Linked DNA regions of Homo sapiens. The protein of the gene in region 1 purifies or fractionates together with the protein of each later gene. This does not show direct contact. Each region holds a gene or a part of one and is shown in the gene's direction. Other genes may lie near its edges.

What was found.
Region 2: the proteins of TMEM220 (region 1) and COX6B1 purify together in Homo sapiens (affinity purification with mass spectrometry; 2 studies listed by BioGRID and IntAct, with this or other methods). This does not show direct contact.

The regions. Positions count from the first base shown.
Region 1 is NC_000017.11:10,725,139-10,737,449, reverse strand, and holds the start of TMEM220 (transmembrane protein 220), read left to right. Parts: upstream 1-7,426; 5' UTR 7,427-7,598; coding exon 7,599-7,670; exon of another isoform or gene 7,671-7,673; intron 7,674-8,389; coding exon 8,390-8,419; intron 8,420-11,185; coding exon 11,186-11,246; intron 11,247-12,311.
Region 2 is NC_000019.10:35,643,845-35,651,322, forward strand, and holds the start of COX6B1 (cytochrome c oxidase subunit 6B1), read left to right. Parts: upstream 1-4,478; 5' UTR 4,479-4,559; intron 4,560-7,388; 5' UTR 7,389-7,399; coding exon 7,400-7,478. Other genes in the region: ETV2 (ETS translocation variant 2), read left to right, coding at 391-503, 808-1,008. UniProt on the Homo sapiens protein: Component of the cytochrome c oxidase, the last enzyme in the mitochondrial electron transport chain which drives oxidative phosphorylation.

The DNA.
Region 1 (12,311 bases):
AAAGCTCTGTTTGCACTTCTTCACCTCCAGCTGATGCCAACCTCGTACCCACCCAGAAGTCTACATCACAGGCTTCCTGGGAGAGCCAAGGGGAGGCACAGCCCACTCTTCCCTCCTCCCCTCCTTCGTTCCATGCCCGCACGACTCCATTCCCAGCAGAAGTCCGCCATCTTGTGGACACATACAATTCCAACAGCCCAGGCCAAAATCAGAAAGTCAAGATCAGAGAGAAGATGGCTTCAAAGTCACTCAACTTCTCTTCCTACCTCCAAATACAGCTTCATCTAATTGGCTCTAAAAGTCAAGGGCATGAGTGGAGAATCTTCCTGGTCTTTAAAATAGCTAAGACATAAGAAGAATGGCATCAAAGGAGGACCTCAAACATCACCCCTTCAGCCTTTGGAGAATTGAGCCCCTGGTCTACAGATGACCCCTTCCACCCTCTCCAGTTCATGGAAACAGGGTAGCTGTTGAGTTAAATGCTCCACTCTCATGGGAGAGAGAGCCCACTTCACTCACTCCCTTCATAAACCTGCAGAAGGCCTCACCATGAGCTTGAAGAAGTCTAATTTCTGACTCACTTATTGCTTAACCAGGGTACTTAAAAGCTAGTGTATGCCTTTGTTTCTCTATCCATAAAATGGGGATGATAGTACTATCTACCTAATAGATCTGTTGTGGGCACAAGACGAGTTAATATATATGAAGTGATTAGAATACTGCCTAACTCAGTAAATTCAAGACGCTACCTATTACATCCCCCACCACCAAACCCAATATTCCTACAACATTTCATTGTATCCCCACTCACCTTGGATATTGTTTATATCCAGGTATGTCAGGTGCTACTGGAGAGAAGAAAAAATTAACAGGTTATAGTCCTTACCTTCTGAAATTTGTGGCATAGTCTAGGAGCATGAACAACACACATACACACAGAACAATTATTGCGAGATTAAAACTAAGAATTTCCAGCCAAGTGCGGTGGCTCACGCCTGTAATCCCAGCACTTTGGGAGGCCGAGGTGGGCGGATCACCTAAGGTTAGGAGTTCAAGACCAGCTTGACCAACATGGAGAAACCCCATCTCTATTAAAAATACAAAAAAATTAGCTGGGTGTGGTGGCGCATGCCTGTAATCCCAGCTTCTCGGGAGGCTGAGGCAGGAGAATCGCTTGAACCCAGGAGGTGGAGGTTGCAGTGAGCCAAGATCCTGCCATTGCATTCCAGGCTGGACAGCAAGAGCGAAACTCTGTCTCAAAAAAAAAAAAACAAAAAAACCCACACACCCAAAAAAAACTAAGAATTTCCATAAAGGGAAAAAAAAAGTGAAAGTATAAGGAGAAGAGCATCCACAGTCCCACCTAAGGAGATCAGGCGACTCTAATTGAGGCCAGGTAGGTGCTAGCACAGGCTGACACTCAGCGATTCTGGACGGAGCAAAGGCAACACTGGGAAGTGCTTTGCCATTCCCTTGAAGAGCTCACCTACCTTCTGCAGTCTGTTCTCAGCCATGCAGAATCAAAAACTTGTTTTTTTAAGTACTTTCTATCAATTATTTTTATTTATTGTGTAATCTGCCATGTATGATTTTGAAAGTCCTTTTTTTTTTTCAATGGGGTCTTGCTCTGTCACCCAGGCTGGAATGCAGTGGTGCAAATCACAGCTCACTGCATCCTCGAGCTCCTGGACTCAAGCAATCCTCCCGCCTCAGCCTCCCAAGAAGCTATGACCACAGGCACATGCCACCATACCCAGCTAATTTTTTAAAATTTTTTTGTAGAGATGGAGTCTTGCTCTGTTGCCCAGGATGTCTTGAACTCCTGGGCTCAAGTGATCCTCTCACTTTGACCACCCAAAGTACTGGGATTACAGGTGTGAGCCACCACACCCAGCCTTGAAAACTTAACTTTGTCATAAGGAGTGGAGGCATTTTTTTATTCCCTGCATACAGTCTGATTGACTTTATCTCCCCAATGTCACTCATTCGTGCTTCTTTCCCTCCATGGCCACTGCTACCCTGTTAGCCCTGGCCAGCATCATCTCTCTCCTGGCCTACTGCAAGCACCTCATGGCCAGTCTCTGCTTCTTCTCTGGGCTCTCCCCAGTGCATCCTCCTCCACGGGGCAGCCCAAGCACACCTCCCATCATGCTCTCCCCACTCAGTGCTCCAGGGGCTCTTCAGCACACTTGGGATAAAACCAAACTTTTTTTTTTTTTTTTGAGATGGAGTTTCACTCTGTTGCCCAGGCTGGAGTGCAATGGCGTGATCTCGGCTCACTGCAACCTCCGCCTCTTGGGTTCAGGTGATTCTCCTGCCTCAGCCTCCTGAGTAGCTGGGACTATAGGCATGCGCCACTGTGCCTGGCTAATTTTGTATTTTTAGTAGAGATGGGGTTTCACCATGTTGGTCAGGCTGGTCTTGAACTCCTGACCTCAGATGATCCATCTGCCTCGGCCTCCCAAAGTGCTGGGATTACAAGCGTGAGCCACCACACCCAGCCAGGATAAAACCAAACTCTTTACCTGCATTGTGCTAGCCTCATCTATGTCTACTTGTACTCTCATTCTTTGCCAGGCCCTGAAGACCTTCAGGATTTGGTCTTCTCATAAGCACTTCTCTCTCGGCTTTAAGCACTGGTCCATAAAGTCTTCACCTGTCCTCACCCATTCATCTTTCAGGGCACACCTGAAAATCACCTCCTCAGGAGGTTTCTGGAACCCCTGGGAAGAGGTCAGATTCTCTGGTTTCACACATTCCCATAGCAGCCTCACTTCTCCTTCTCAGCATCACCACCATTGTTGGCTGGAACCCCTACCTATTCGTGTAATTATTGTTTGGCCTGTAAGCTCTACAAGGGCAAACACCGTGTCCCGTGAGGTCACAGTCACATCCTCAGTTATTAGCATAGTGCCTGACACGTAGGAAGTCTTGAATAAATGGACAGAATAAATGGATAGAATAAATGGCTCACTGAGTGTTTCATGCCAATGAATAGGGTGGATATAAATACACGCAGAGGGTTCATTTAACCATATTCTCCTTTCAGTGGCATAAGGGGATATTTGAGGAACATTATTCAAGCCAAGTGTTTTTCATTGTCCATCAATATGCGTAAGCTTTAAGACTTTCATAACACGGGCTATATTTTGCTAACAGTAGAAACCCAAGTCCTTCATAGAGACTAGATGGGTTTTGTAGAAGCAAATCAATCCTTGCCGTGGCGAGGTGCTTTTCTGATTTCAAATATTTTAGCAGAAGGCTGTCTAGCTCCTAGTAGAATTCGTCCACTGCTCCTAGTAGAATTCCTCCACTGTTCTGTTCCAACCCTTTCCTGCCCCAACACTTCATTCACATGGAATCAGCAGAGCCTGGAGACAGCATGGCTTGGCCTTTGCTGATCTGGTGTGCTGGACAGAGGGAGGTAGACGGCATGGGCAGCAGTTTCTGATCCTTGTAATCCTTGTTCCCAATATGTCACCTTGGGAGCATCACCAGCACACACACACTCTGGACATAGAGCACAGGCAGGAGCCACTCACTGGTGATGACCCTGTTTCAGACTTTGTCCGGCCTCCACCCCTGCCACATTCCGGAGTAGCTGACCACACCTGGAAGGACAGATAATGGAGACTACTAAAAGGAAAACAAGTCTATAAAAGAGAATGGCATGGGCATTCCATTGATACACACTTTGAAATGCACCTGGCTCAGAGAGCCACATGTTCTCCACTCTGTAGGCCAGCTAGGTGGGAAGCCAAAGTCTCCAAAATTGGCCTTCTGGAATCACAGCAAGGGGAGGGTTGAGCCTGTGAAATTTTCAACCCACATAAGCCCCAAAGAGGTTGGCCCGACCAAGAAATGTGAGTGTCCACATCTGGTGGAGCAAAGCACTCTCTCCAGTCTGTGTGAGGATGGACTTGGTCTACGCTTGCCTTTCAGATGACCTAACTTGAAGCCTCCAAGCCCATCAATCCTCCTTTGCTGACATTCTTCTTTTACGTACTTTCATGCATTCATTTTCTCTCTCTCAATCCTGTGACCCTGGGAGGCCATTTGTGTCTTTATATGAGCTTCCTGTCTCTGCTCCAACTCTTAGCATTGGATTAACAACCCTACTCTCAGGGAATAAGCAAGCACCTCTATTTCCAAGTTCTCAGAGGGCAGATGTCCAGCCATTCTCGGATTCCAGCGGGGAAGTGAGTCCAGCTCACCTCACTCCTGTGGCTCAATTGCTTTTATGATGCTGTCACTGACTGGGCAGCCAGGGAGTGTCCAGCAGGATGAAGGGTCCTTTGTGCTGCCCTTTCTGCAGAGGGAAGCCAGCTTTGACAAGACCCTACTGCCTTTAAAACCTCATCTTCTCTGCAGTATTGTATCATAGCCTTTTGCTAAAAAGGGAAATGAAATTACTCTTCAAGCAGAGCTGTCTGAGATATTGGATTCATTTAAACGTATTTTTCATTACTTTTCAGACTAAGCCTTCTCTTCCGTGTCTCTGCAAAGCCTGGACAAACCTATAGCAGGAGGTTTGCAAGGATTTCACACATTGCCTTAACTATTGAATCATGACTTTACAAGTCATCATTCTTTGTTGCAAATTACAAAAACCCAATTCACACGGGCTTATGTAAAGAAGAGACTCTGTTGGTTGTGAGATTCTTCCATTTTCAGGCATGGCTGGATCCAGGCTTTTAAACTTCACCTGCAGAAAGCCTTTCTCCCTGTGAGGCTTTCTCCTGACAGCTCCAGGCTCACATTCTACCAGCTCTACACATTCATCACAAAGAAAGCTTCTCTTTAATAGTGTGAGTAGGATTGCCAGATTTAGCAAATATTTGGAACACATCATTGATGATCCAAAATTCAGTTCAACTGAGGTTGTCCTTTACTGACAACCTAAGTCCCATATAGGTCCTAGGATTGAATCTGGGCAATTTGGATCCTATACCCATCCTAGACCCAATCACAGTGGTCAACAGAATGGGATATGTCAGCTGGCAGGCCAAAGTCACCTGCCTATCCCCAAAAGGAGGGGAGCACGGTCAACCCTGTAGTCCACATCCACCCATAGTGCATGTGGTAATCCACAGTACTAAAGACACTGATCCTCGAAGAAAGGGGACTGAACCCTGCAAAGGCAAAACCAACAGACGCTCACTAAGGTGACTTTGAAAGTCCCAGCCGGGTGCAGTGGCTCATGCCTGTAATCCCAGCACTGTGGGAGGCCGAGGCAGGCAGATCATGAGGTCAGGAATTCGAGACCAGCCTGGCCAATATGGTGAAACTCCATCTCTACTAAAAAAAATACAAAAATTAGCCCAGCATGGTGGTGGGCGCCTGTAGTCCCAGCTACTCTGGAGGCTGAGGCAGGAGAATCACTTGAACCCAGGAGGCAGAGGTTGCAGTGAGCTGAGATCGTGCCACTGCACTCCAGCCTGGGCAACAGAGCAAGACTTTGTCTCAAAAAAATAGAAATAAAAAAAGAAAGTCCCAGACAACAGTGAAAACTATAAAACTTCATGGTGGTTGTATGGCATTCAAGAGCTTAAAAGCACTTCCATGCCATTGTTTCCTTGTGGGTATTATAATCATTCCCTGTATTAATTTGCTAGGACTGTCCCAACAAAGTACCACAGTCTAGGTGGCTTAAACAACGGAAATTTATTTTCTCACAGTTCTGGAGGCTGGAAGTCCAAATTCAGGATGTTGGTAGGGTTGGTTTCTCATGAGGCCTCTCCCCTTGGCTTGCAGACGGCCGTCTTCTCCCTGTGTGCCCATGTGGTCTTCCCTCTGTAACTGTCCCCTCTTCGTATCAGGACACTAGTCATATTGGATTAGGGTCCACCCTATAACCTCATTTTAACTTAATCATCTCTGTCAAGTCCCTGTCTGCAAATGCAGTCCCATTTTGAGGCACTGGGGGTTAGGGCTTCAGCATATGAATTGGGGGTGCAGGGGGAATGCAAGTCAGCCCCTAGCACTCTCGCTCTCATTTTTTTCTTTTATGTAAGGAAAAGCACAGTGAGAATAGTCTTCGCTTGTTTCCAATCCCAGGGCTGATTTAGCTGTGGAACTCCACCCAGTGCTGGTCCCCGCTGTCCCCACCCCACCTCTGCAAACACGGGTGCCCACCCCCGCCAGCCGCCAGGCTCCCTGCCTAGTCCCGGCACGGGACCTTCACGGTCCCAGCACCAGGCACAGAGCAGACAACGTTCTTGAAATAAGTGTTTCGTGAAAAGAATGAAACTGAGAGGGAAAGAAAAAAAAAACTAGACAGTTTTAGGAGATTTAGCTCAAAGGAAAAGAGGACAGGCACAGAAGCTCCTGATTTGAAGCGATAAAGACTCTTTAGAACAGCAGAAATGAGGCCTATGGATGTGTAAATGAGCCCGGGGAGGAACTAAGCAGAAGGGCGAATTACAAAACAGAAAAAGACCAGACAGACTAGGGGAGAACAGTGAATATTTCAGTGTCTTCGGTTCATAAGAAATTCATGAGCAATTTTGGAAATTTTGTTGGTTTTGGTGGTGGGAGAGAATTGTAAATATGTATAATATGTAAATATCTTTTATAATAAAAGCCCATGAAGATAAATGAGCCTGTCTGCCGAAAAGCTGTGAGCCGTATAAGATGTTAATATAACTGTCGTCACTCTAGAAATTACCATAATGCTTACAGGGATTTGAAAGTTCCTGAGCTTTGGAAGGAAATGCATAAATACTAAACAGAACACACACACACACACACACACACACACACACACACACACACACATCTCTTTTTCTTTCTCTTTCTTATTTTTGTAAAAACAATTTTTATCCTTTTTTTTTTGAGGAGTCTCGCTTTGTTGCCCAGGCTGGAGTGCAGTGGCACAATCTGGGCTCACTGCAACCTCCGCCGCCCGGGTTCAAGCAATTCTCCTGCCTCAGCCTCCTGAGTAGCTGGGATTACAGGCTCCCGCCACCACGCCCGACTAATTTTTTCGTATTTTTAGTAGAGATACGGGGTTTCACCATGTTGGCCAGGCTGCTTTCGAACTCCTGACCTCAGGTGATCCGCCCACCTCGGCCTCCCACAGTGCTGGGATTACAGGCGTGAGCCACTGCGCCCAGCCCTTTCTTTCCTTCTTTCTTTTTCTTTCTTTCTCTTTCTTCCTCTCTCCCCTCCCGCCTGCCTTCCTTCCTTTTTTCCTTCTTTTTTTTCTTTCTTCTTTTTTTTTTTTTTTGTGAGGAAGGTAGCTTTAGTGAAAACAGGGTTTGGAGTTGAACCTATACGGGTTCAAATTCGACTTCCGTCCACCACCGAGACCTGCGCTCCCTGAGGGACTCGCTTTCCCATCCGCGAAACCAGGACGGCGCCGCCTACACCCCGCGGCGTTCGGGGCGGGCTGAATGGGTCGCTGAGTGGGGGCTACACCCACGCCCTTCGCTCCCCGCCCCCGGGCGGAGCGACGGCCACGGCAGTGTCCCCAAGGCACCGAAACCGAGGCGGGGGTCTCGGTCCCTCCGCGCAAGGAGGAAGGCGGACCGTACGTGGCAGGACTCACCGCCCCGCACGTGGCAGGACTCACCGCCCCGCGCCGTGTTCTCCGAGCCATGGCGCCAGCGCTGTGGCGGGCCTGCAACGGACTCATGGCCGCCTTCTTCGCGCTGGCGGCCTTGGTGCAGGTCAGGCGGCCGCGGTGGGAGGGGGACCCGCCCGGCTCCCAGCTCCGCCCCCTGGCCTAGCGGGCCGTGTAACTGACTAGCGGGCAGAGTCGCAGGGGCGCACAGTTAGTGGGGAGGACGGGACTTGGGCTTTCTGCTTGGGGAGCCCCCACTTTCTCCCCCGTCTAAGAGACGCGGATGTGTTCATGGAAGCGAGTCCCATACCAGGGCTCACACCCTGGAAGGGGCTGGTTCCGCGCGTGGAACTTCCCAGGGGACCTCAGAAGAAGCGGCCCTGGCTCCTGCGTTAACGTCCGGCCCGCGGACGACACTGAACATATCTCAGGGCCTAGGAGACGAAGCCGACCAAAACCCTTTATAGCATCATTAAACTTTTTAGTCGGCTTGGGGACCCCCTTCATAATCATTTCCCTCATTTCTTGAGACTGGTGGGGGTGGAGGGCCCTTAAAATACCCGTTCTGGGTTGGCGAGTCCTCTCCAGAGCTCCCGTGAAGGCTTTTCAAAAATGTGTGGCTGCCTGTTAAAAACATCTGTTGTGTCAGCCAGAAACCCCTTCACCCGTCCTCATCTGGACTATATCCTGTTCAGATTTTGTACCCTCGATGCCTATTGCAGTGTCTGGCACTTAACAAATTAATAAAAAATGTGCTTAAATGAATTTAAAAGGAATGGAACAGCACAGGATGTCTGCTAACACCTTGGTATTCTGGCGTTCCAGGTAAATGACCCAGATGCAGAGGTGTGGGTGGTGAGTATGAGCCGCTTCCAGGCTTTCCTCCGTTTGGAAGAATTGGGGAACGGCACAAAACACACGGTTTTATGTCTTTACCCCTCCTCCCTGCTTAATTTTCTGAGAAACTTAAAAATCAAACCCTTGGGAAGCGCTTTTTCCTAAAATATTAATAGGCAGGATCAGAGTTCTAATGTAATGTGTGTGTGAATTTCGAACTTTCTGGAAACAGGTCTTTCTGCAGTATTCCCTTTGGTTAGATGGCCCAACTGAGGACTTTCTTGAGGACCTAGAGTAGGCCTCTCAAGATCAGTTGAACAATTCCTTATGAGTTTCTAGCCAGACACTCAATGCAAACCTTTGACCGGAAAATAACAGGCTTAAGTTCTGAGGTTCTGCTAATTCAGTGACTTATATTTCTAGAAAGTATTAACTCCTGGCTGGGCAAGGTGGCTCACGCCTGCAATCTCAGCACTCTGGGAGGCCAAGGCGGGTGGATCACTTGAGGTCAGGAGTTCTAGATCAGCCTGAGCAACATGGTGAAACCCCGTCTCCACCAAAAAATACAAAAATTAGCCAGGCGTGGTGGCATGCGCCTGTAGTCCCCAGCTACTAGGGAAGCTGAAGCAGGAGACTCGCTGGAACCCAGGAGGCAGAAGTTGCAGTGTGCTGAGATCGTGCCACTGCACTCCAGTCTGGGCGACAGAGTGAGACTCCATCTCAAAAAAAAAAAAGCAAAGAAAAAAAAGAAAAAAAAAAAGCAAAGAAAAGTATTAAATCCTGTAAAACCTACAGTCTTCATATAAGCAAGGCTCTGATTTGAACCATTTGGAGGAGGGGGCCATTGTTCCATACATCTTCTAAATATCTTTTTTTTTTTTTCTTTTTGAGACGGAGTTTTGCTCTTGTTGCCCAGGCTGGAGTGCAATGGCGCAATCTAGGCTCACCGCAACCTCTACCTCCCAGGTTTGAGTGATTCTTCTGCCTCAGTGTCCCAAGTAACTGGGATTACAGGCATGCGCCACCACACCCAGCTAATTTTGTATTTTTAGTAGAGACAGGGTTTCTCCATGTTGGTCAAGCTGGTCTTGAACTCTCGACCTCAGGTGATCCACCTGCCTCAGCCTCCCAAAGTGCTGGGATTACAGACATGAGTCACCGCGCCCGGCTCTAAATATCTTTTATCTTCCAAAATATCTGAATTTTGCCCAGTTTCTCTCAATATAGATACACAAGACTGTACAGTACACCAAGGAGATGACTCTTAAGCTTTAGAATAATATTGACAGAGGAGCAACAAGGATGATGGTATCTGGAATTATAACATGAAATTCTATCCAGGTTTTGTTTTTTTAGTGCAGTAAAACCACATTCTGATATTTACTATCCAGATCAGTATGCCTCTGAATCAAATCAAACTGCCTTTGCCTTGGCACCCTGGTCCGTATCTTGAATTCCAAATATTATTTCCCTGCAGACAAGTCTCAGACATCCAGCTTAATGGTGAATTTCCAAAAGACTGCTGCGTATATTCACCTGCATGTCACACTGCTCCTCAGATATGCCCAAGGACCTACCTAGCATCTTTCCCTCCAAAATCTACTTATCCTGACTCACCCATTTCTGTTATCAGCAGAATCATTCTCTGAGTCATTCTTGTTCAGAATCTCAGTCATCTTTATCATCTCTCTGTTCCTTACCACTGCCTTGGAGAGCCCCTCAAAACACAAAATAAATTTGAGTCGGGCATGGTGGCAGGCATCCGTAGTCCCAGTTACTCAAGAGGCTGAGGCAGGAGGCTCACTTGAGCCCAGGAGTTCGAGGCCAGCCTGTGCAACATAGCGAGACCCCCCCCATCTCCAAAAAATTAATTAAACAATCGAGGTCTAATTGCTTATCTCTATAGTACCTGCACATTTTACCTTTCATTCATGCTCAGACGATATAATAGGAGGAATAGACCCCATGTCCCCATAGACATCCTCCCTCATTCACAGTTCAGCCCTCCACTACCTCCCACATGGACCCCTGGCACCTGCCTTAACATCTTCTGATATAAGCACAGAAATTGATGTGATTAGACAGCTACATTGTTTGGAAAGTCCCCATCCTTCTTATAAACCCACCCTCCCTACTTATTCCCTGCCAACAACACACACAATAGTAAGTTTGGCTAGAGCCTGCTTGTTATGAACAAGGCTTAGGAATAGGGCCTCTTTAGGGCTAGTCTTCTCATTTCCAAACACTTATCAGCAGTTCCAAAATGAAGAGCCTGACCTTATTACTGGGCACAGCTGATTGTGTATGCATTATTAGAAAACTTTCTGTGGTCTCACAGAGATGCAGTACTGGCCTGGATGGTCCATTGGGTCCAAAGCCAGCAGGGCCATCTAGCATCGTGGCTGCTCCTGCCCTACTTTTCAAAGAACATTTTCTTTTATGCAAGTGGGGAAAGGCCATTTGGGCATGAAAGTTGCTTGGGAGCGACTGGAAAGTTAGTGTGTCTTAAGACCAAAACCCTGTGCTCAGTGTTAGAGCTCAAAGATAAATGAGCTTCTGGAATAGCCTATAGTCTAGGAGGAAGGTAGATAAAATTGCAGGCAGACGTGCTAAGTGCCACAAAAGGAGAATCTACCACTTTCTCAATCACCATTGAAACTTAGAGGCAAATCATGGGGCACAGCAGCCACTGATCTCATCTTTCTTTACTTCCTGTATCTCTGAACATCTCATATATTGGGCATACATCTTAACTCATGTAATTTCCTCCCTTTTTGCTAACAGGTGGTGTACACAATCCCTGCAGTACTGACCCTGCTTGTTGGACTTAACCCTGAAGTCACAGGTATAAGCCTTGCATTCTAAATGGAGAGACAGCAAATCAGATTTCCTCATAATAATGAGGGTCTATCTGCCCAACTCCCAGGAGTAAAACGGGGCTCTCTAGGCCTTTCTTCTCATTTCTGATAATAAAAGGGGCTAATTCTAATCATCCTTACCCATCTTCAGGAAAACGTCAGAAGGATCTGCTATAAAACAGCGTCTTCTGTTTTATAGAAGTGAGAGGACAGATTCTTCTTCACTTTCTTTAAAACAGTTTCTCCTAGTGGGGCTCGAATGTTCTCAGGGGCCTTAGAATAAAGACTAATGAGTCCCACCTTAGTGGGGAAAATTCTAGTTCCCTAGATGCCTGGGCTCCTTGTATAGGCAGCTAGAACTCCGTCTGCATCTTTAAGGTAGATCAGTTAGGGCTCCTTTAGATACAAGCTAGAAAATAACTCAAATGTGCTATGAGCTGAGAAGAAAAGGTATTGGTACAGTTTACTGAAAAGGTGAAGGGTGGTGCTGGCTTCAGACTGGTGGACTCGGAACTTTACCTTCTCTCCACCTCTCAGTTCCACCATCTGTCATGCTAACTTCACTCTTGGGCTCCACACAGTGGCCCTGCAGCCCCCCATTCACATCTTCACGATGCCACGTCCAGTGGAATATGGACTGTGTTTCTTCACTCTACCAAAGTCTCAGAATGCAGTTGCTGGCTCTGATTGCTTGTCCGTTTGTGCTGATCCAAATCACTGTGGCTGAGGAGATAACATGTATTGATTGACCTAGCCAAAGTCCAGTTCACTGGGAAACATGGACTGTGAGTGTGGACATGGTGGATCCCCAGAGAAAATAAGGGTAATCATCCTAGGAAGGGGAGCTGCTGAACAACCCAAACAAGAAATGGCCACTGAAGTTTATAATTAGTGCTGTGACCTCTGTGTTGTCCTAAAACAAAAAGGGGCGATGGGGCTGAGGGAGTCTGAATGTCTTTTCTGAAAGCAGACTATGGCAAAACATACAAAAAGATCATTTTTTTTTTCTGTGGGCTGTGATTCCGTGGTTAACAACATCAGAACATCTATTT
Region 2 (7,478 bases), on another chromosome or scaffold:
AGTGAGGGGGCGGGGGCTTAGGGACCAGGGGCTCGAAGGAGGGGCCGGTGGCCCGCACTCCAGGTCCTTGGGGAGGAGAGGGCTAAGAAACTGGTAGTCTTATAGGGACCAAGGGGATGAGGACCCAGGCTCCTGGATTATATAAAACGAAAGCGATAAAGGCCCAGATTCCTGGGTCTCCGAGATGGGGAGGCCAAACTCCTAAATCTCTGAGACTGGGGCCCTGGACGCTTGAGTCTCCAAGGCTGACTGTTGGATCTCAGAGAAGGGGGGGCGGATCCCCTTCTCGGGTCCTGGGTCCCGAGTTGGGAGGACCCGGACCTCTAGATCATTGAAGTGGTGTGATCTAGGGCCGGGAAGACTGAGTGTGCCCCTCCCTTCATCCCGCAGGTCCCATTCAGCTGTGGCAGTTCCTCCTGGAGCTGCTCCACGACGGGGCGCGTAGCAGCTGCATCCGTTGGACTGGCAACAGCCGCGAGTTCCAGCTGTGCGACCCCAAAGAGGTGGGGCAGCTCCCCTGCCCAGCCAAATCCGCCCCGTCTCTTCTAGTTCAATTTAGCTCCGCCCAAGGGCTAGGTTCAACCGCGTAGCCCTCGGCCCCGCCGCTCCCCGGCCCACTCGAGGCCCCGCCCAACCCTTCTCAAACCCAATCTCCCGCCTGTACTCCTGCCTCAACCAACCCAGTCTCCACCGGGCTCTGCGAGGCCTCGCCCAGGTCTGCACTGCACACCGCCCCCAGGCCCGGCCCTCCCCACTATCGCCAAGCCCCGCCCCTTCCCACTCCGACCGAGCGGGCCTCTGTCCTAGGTGGCTCGGCTGTGGGGCGAGCGCAAGAGAAAGCCGGGCATGAATTACGAGAAGCTGAGCCGGGGCCTTCGCTACTACTATCGCCGCGACATCGTGCGCAAGAGCGGGGGGCGAAAGTACACGTACCGCTTCGGGGGCCGCGTGCCCAGCCTAGCCTATCCGGACTGTGCGGGAGGCGGACGGGGAGCAGAGACACAATAAAAATTCCCGGTCAAACCTCTTCGCGCGTGCTCCTCTGCAGCATTCTTCCCGCTGATACTGACTACAGCAGCTAGGGAGCCTAAGTGTGCAGCTCCACATGTTGGAATTTGGCCTCCCCACCTCGGAGACCCAGGCGTCTGGGCCTTCATCTCTTTCCTCTCACATGATCCAGAGGCCTGGATCCTTGCTCGCTAAAAGACTGCAGTGTCTTAGTCCTCTTCTCCCTGAAGACCCTGAAGTGCGGGCCACCAGCCCCAAGTCCCTTAAGCTCCCAGGTCCCTAAGCCCCGCCCCACGCTGTCAGTTTCCCCGGTCCCGCCCCCTTAGGCCCCGCCTCTCGACTCCGCCTTCACTCCCTCCGCAATCTTCGCGGACCTCCCTCCTCGGTGGTTAGTTTTGGGATGAGGAACCACCCACCTCCAGTGCTGCGCAATGATCAAAGGAGACCCAGACTCAGGGAGCCTGCCATGTGCCCGCCCTGTGATGAGAGAGGCAAAGAAACTAAACCCAAAGCCCATAGGGCCTACTGTGTCCCTGCCCTGTGTCGGGATTTGTAAAGGAATCAGACCCAATCATGAGAGTATATCTGCTGTGTCCCCTTGAAGAGAAGACTCAGACCCTGAAAAGGGCTTACTGTGCTGTGTGTCCTCCCAGTGCAAGGGATCATCAAAGAATTAAAACTAGTGCTTGCACCCCAACACCACTCACTCTTTCCCCACTCCAAGCTGGAGGACACAGGACTCAGACCTACACTGTAAAGAGAGCCTACGCCATTCTGAGAGCCACTGAGCCCCTAAAGAGAGCCTGCTGTCTGTGAGCGATGCGGGGGATACAGCAGGGACCAAGACAGCCCTGGACCCTCCCCTTAAGGAGCTCACAGTCCAGTGGGAAGACAGACCCATCATCAGAGTGTTTTGACCTGGGATGAGAAGACTCCAGGGGACTGAGGGAGGCCAAAAGGAGAGACCTGATCTAGCCCAGGAGGAGAAGGGTCAGGGGAGACTCCCTGGAGGAGGAGACAGCTGATTTGAGAAGTCAGGTAGGCAAAGAATGTTTCAGGCAGAAGGAACAACAAGATCAAAGGCCCAGAGGCAGACGATCTCATACCACTGCTCAAAACTATCAGTGTGGGCCAGGCATAGTGGCTCACACCTGTAATCTCAGCATTTTGGAAGGCTGAGGCAGGAGGATGCCTTGAGGCCAGGAGTTCCAGACCAGCCTGAGCAACATAGGGGAGACCCCCATCTCTATTTAAAAAATTAAAAATAAACGTGGCTACAGCAGCAACAGGGACCAATTCATAAAGGATCTGTGGGCCGTGGTGAGGAGCCTGGACTTTGTCTCCAGGGCTCCTGGGGAGCCATCAAGGGTTTTGTTTGTTTGTTTGTTTTTTGAGATGGAGTCTCACTCTGTCACTCTGGCTGGAGTGCAGTGATGCAATTTCAGCTCACTGCAACCTCCGACTCCCAGGTTCAAGCAATTCTCCTGCCTCAGCCTCCCAAATAGCTGGGATTACAGGTGCACACCACCACGCACAGCTAATTTTTGTATTTTTAGTAAAGATGGGGTTGCACCGTGTTGGTCAGGCTGGTCTTGAACTCCTGACCTCAGGTGATCCGCCTGCCTTGGCCACCCAAAGTGCTGGGATTATAGGAGTGAGCCACCGTGCCTGGCCCCCATCAAGGGGTTTTAAGCAGGGAAAGGGATTTGGATTTTAGGAAGATCTCATTGCAGGGGATGAATACATGCATGTAAACAGGTAATTCCACAAATAATCACAATGTTGATGGACACAGAATGTGTAAGAAGAGGTCCCTGACCCAATTCCATCTGGACACTGCACCCCAGATGGTATGTGAGAGGCTTTAGAGGCCAGATGGGGGAGGAAGGAAAGCAGTTCTCTTTCATAGCTCCCTCTCCTAGTCCCTAGATGCTTCCTTCATTTCCACAAGAAATTCTTGCATTCAGCAAATATTTATAGACCACTTCCTGTGTGCCAGGCACTGCTTTAGATACAATGGTGAATGAATAAGGCAGACAAAAATTCTTCCTTTATGATAATTCTTTTCTGTTGAGGGAGGCAAAAAGAGGTAAACATAATGTAAAAGAACAGATATAGCCGGGCACGGTGGCTCACGCCTGTAATCCCAGCACTTTGGAAGGCCAAGGCGGGCAGATCACCTGAGGTCAAAAGTTCAAGACCAGCCTGACCAACATGGACAAACCGCATCTCTACTAAAAATACAAAATTAGCCAGGTGTGGTGGCGCATGCCTGTAATCCCAGCTACTGGGGAGGCTGAGGCAGAAGAATCGCTCTAGCTCGGGAGGTGGAGGTTGCAGTGAGCCAAGATCACACCACTGCACTCCAGCCTGGGCAACAAGAGCAAAACTCTGTCTGAAAAAAAAAAAAAAAAAAAAAAAAAAAAAGCCAAATTGGCCAGGTAGGGCAGCTCACGCCTGTAATCCCAGCATTTTGGGAGGCCGAGGTGGGCAGATCACCTGAGGTCAGGAGTTCAAGACCAACCTGACCAACATGGTGAAATCCCATCTCTACCAAAAATACCAAAATTAGCCGGGAGTGGTGGCGTGCGCTTGTAATCGCACCTACTCGGGAGGCTGAGGCAGGAGAATCGCTTGAACCGAGTAGACGCAGGTTGCAGTGAGCCAAGTTCGTGCCACTGCACTCCAGCCTGGGCGACAGAGTGAGACTCCGTCTCTCTCTCTATATATATATTTTAAGGGTAGGGATTTTTGTGTTTTGTGCAGCGTGCTTTCTCAACCCGTAAAGTGCCTGATGGCTGGATACGGTGGGTCACGCCGGTAATCCTAACGCTTTGGAAGGCCGAGGCGGGAGGATCGCTTAGAGACCAGGAGTTCGAGTCCAGCCTGGGTAACACAGCAAGACCCCATCTCTATAAAATGCATATATATATCCAGGAGTAGCGGTGCGCATCTGTAATCCCAGCTACTCGGGAGGATGAGGCGGGAGAATCGCTTGAACCCAGGAGGCGGAGGTTGCAGTGAGCTGAGATCGCGCTACTGCACTCCAGCCTGGGCCATAGAGTAAGACCCTGTCTCAAAAATTTAAAAAAAAGAAAAAAAAAATTTAAAGAAAAGAAATACCTGACACAGAAAAAGCGTTCAATAAATATTTCTTGCATGAATAAAAGTACTTTCGCTGGGACATTTTTCTCCACACCTACCCTCCAGCCAGCCCCGGGATCTATAACACTCTCTCCGAGTGAAGACACAGAGGTGATGAGATCGGGTAACCCACGGGCGCCCGAGCCCCAGCCGCGCAAGCTCACGATTGGGCCAGAAGTGAGGATGAACAAGCATTTAGCCCAATAGAAAGTCGTAGTTCTCTTGCTGGGCGTGGCTTGAATGACTTCAGTGGCCTCCTCCTGGGAGGGAGCTGAAGCCGCTCGCAAGACTCCCGTAGTCCCCACCTCTCTCAGCTTCCGGCTGGTAGTAGTTCCGCTTCCTGTCCGACTGTGGTGTCTTTGCTGAGGGTCACATTGAGCTGCAGGTTGAATCCGGGGTGCCTTTAGGTGAGTGTGGAGGGTTCTGTAACCTGGGACCCCAGTCTAGCGGGCTGAGGAGCCGGACCCCAGCTTCCCTGAGAACGGGTTGAGGCTTCCGGCTGGCGGCGTCCGGCCTCCCTGGACCCCGGGGCCCTGTTCTGTTCATCGTAAGAGCTAACAATGATACGGTTCTTCCTTGATGCCAGGCAACATCCCAAACAACTTTAATTAATTTATTTAACTCTCCCACCAGCCCTATGAGATAGGGCCTGCGATTATCCCCTTTTGTCAGTAAACAGGCTCAGAGATACCAAGCGACCTAGCTGAACCTACACAGCGACCAGGATTTGGCCCAGGAGTTTGTCCTCCAGGGCTCTTCATGGCTAATTCACAGGCGTGGCCTCTCGCGGCTTGCCTGGGCCGCAGCCTGGCTCCCGGGTGTCCAGTCCATCCTCCCTTTTGGACGTTGGAGGGGCCGCAGCGTCATCTCCGATGCACCCTCATCCTCAGATACCGGGTAGAGATCTCGCCGGTAACGATCCTTCCTACTGCGTCTGTGCCCCAGCAGCTGGTGTTTTACACCCCACTTCCCCACCGAAAGACTGTTTTAGTGCTCCAGACCCCCACCACCACCTTGCGTCGCTTGAATTTGACACTGCTCTGCAAGTCTCTGTATAGCCCCACGACTCCTAGGATTCCCTGGAATATAGATACTTTTCTCTCAGGCTCCCGACGAACACTGTCACTTCTTCAGAGACATTATATTAAAGGTGTTTAACCCTGGGTCCGCAGAGTTGGTAGAATTCAAGGAATGCTAGTACTTGAATTGGGGTGGGGGGTGGAATTGCATCTGTGTTTTTACTAACCTTTTGAGGCAGCAACCTCGGTAGTACTAGCAGCAGCGGTGATTTTGTTAGCAATGAAAATCATAGACATTCCTTTTTTTTGTTTTTCTCCTTTTTTGAGACAGGGTCACTGTGTCACCCAGGCTGGCGTGCAGTGGAGAAATCTTGGCTCACTGCAACCTCTGCTTCCCTGTGCAAGCGATCCTGCCTCAGTAGCTGGGACCACAGGCACGCGCCACCACACCTGGCTAATTTTAATTTTTTTTTTTTTTTTTGAGACAAGATCTTGCTGTATCGCCCAGGCTGGAGTACAATGGCACAATCTCGGCTCACTGCAACCTCCGCCTCTTGGGTTCAAGTGATTCTCCTGCCCCAGCCTCCCTGGTAGCTGGGATTACAGGTGCACGCCACCATGCCCAGCTAATTTTTTGTATTTTTAGTAGAGATGGGGTTTCACCATATTGGCCAAGCTGGTCTTGAACTCCTGACCTCAGGTGATCCACCCACCTCGGCTTCCCAAAGTGCTGGGATTACAGGCGTGAGCCACCTCTTCCGGCCAATTTTAATATTTTTTTTGTAGAGATGAGATGGGGTTTCACCATGTTGCCCAGGCTGGTCTTGAACTCCTGGGCTCAAGCGATCCTCCCACCTCAGCATTCCAAAGTGCTGGGATTACAGGTGTGAACCATTGTGCTCCACCCAAAATCACAGGTATTCTTATACCACATTATAACAGCAAATGTCACAAAATACTATATTCATTCATGATTACTTCAAAATTGTATTTTTTTTTTTTTTTGAGACAGTGTTTTTGCTCTGTTGCCCAGGTTGGAGTGCACTGGCACAATCTCGGCTCACTACAACCTCCGCCTCCTGGGTTTAAGCGATTCTTTTGCCTCAACATCCAGAGTAGCTGGGATTATAGGCACCTGCCACCACACCCAGCTGATTTTTATATTTTTAGTAGAGCCAGGGTTTCACCATGTTGGCCAGGCTGGTCTTGAACTCCTGACCTCAGGTGATCCACCCCCCTGGCCTCCCAAAGTGCTAGGATTACAGGCGTGAGCCACCGCACCCGGCGAAAATTGTATTCCTTAATGAATCCTCAGCTGGATATAACTGCTTTTCTTTGTGATGCTGTGCAGGTTTTTTTCACTTCATGTACTCATGGAGCCTATGCAATTTTTAAATACATTTAAACATATTCAGGCCGGGTTTGGTGTCTCCGTTCTGTAATCTCAACATTTTGGGAGGCCAAGCCGGGCAGATCATTTGAGGTCAGAAGTTGGAGAGCAGTCTGACCAACATGGTAAAACCTTGTCTAAAATACAAAAAAATTAGCAGGGCATGGTGGCAGGCGCCTGTAATCTCAGCTGTTCGGGAGGCTGAGGCAACAGAATTGCTTGAATCTTGGAGGCGGAGTTTGCAGTGAGCCTAGGTCGTACCAGTGAGCCTGGGTGACAGAGCAAGACTCTGTCTTAAAAAAAGAAAAAAAAAAACATTCAGCGAGAGGTTTCTGGGATTCATCAGACTGCTGAGGAGTTTGTGGCACCAAAAAGATTAAGAATCTTTGCAGTGTAGATTATGCCAACAACGGAGGCAGCCCACCAGTTATTTTTATGCCGTTTAACCGTAGGAAGTCACTTAGACACCCTGTTCCTTCCTCGTCTGGGCAATGGTGATAGTAATAGTTCCTACCTTTTAGAGTGGCTATAGGAGTAAAGTGTGTAGAACAGCGCCTGGCATGTAGTAAGCACTCAGTGAGTGTTAGCTCATGTTATTTGGGGACCAGGCTTGATTTTGCTGAGGAGTTGTACCCCAACCCTGCCGCGACCTCGACACTCAGATGTGTGGATTCGCCCTGCCCCTCATCTCTGTGTATGTTGAGAGGCAGGAACTTGTTCACACCCAGCCCATTGTTCCGTGCCTGCCCTCTTCCATTGATCCTGGGTAGTCTGGCTTGCTCAGGGCCCCTGGGGCCCCTGCTGACACCCACTCCTTTCGCCTCCAGGATTCAGCACCATGGCGGAAGACATGGAGACCAAAATCAAGAACTACAAGACCGCCCCTTTTGACAGCCGCTTCCCCAACCAGAACCAGA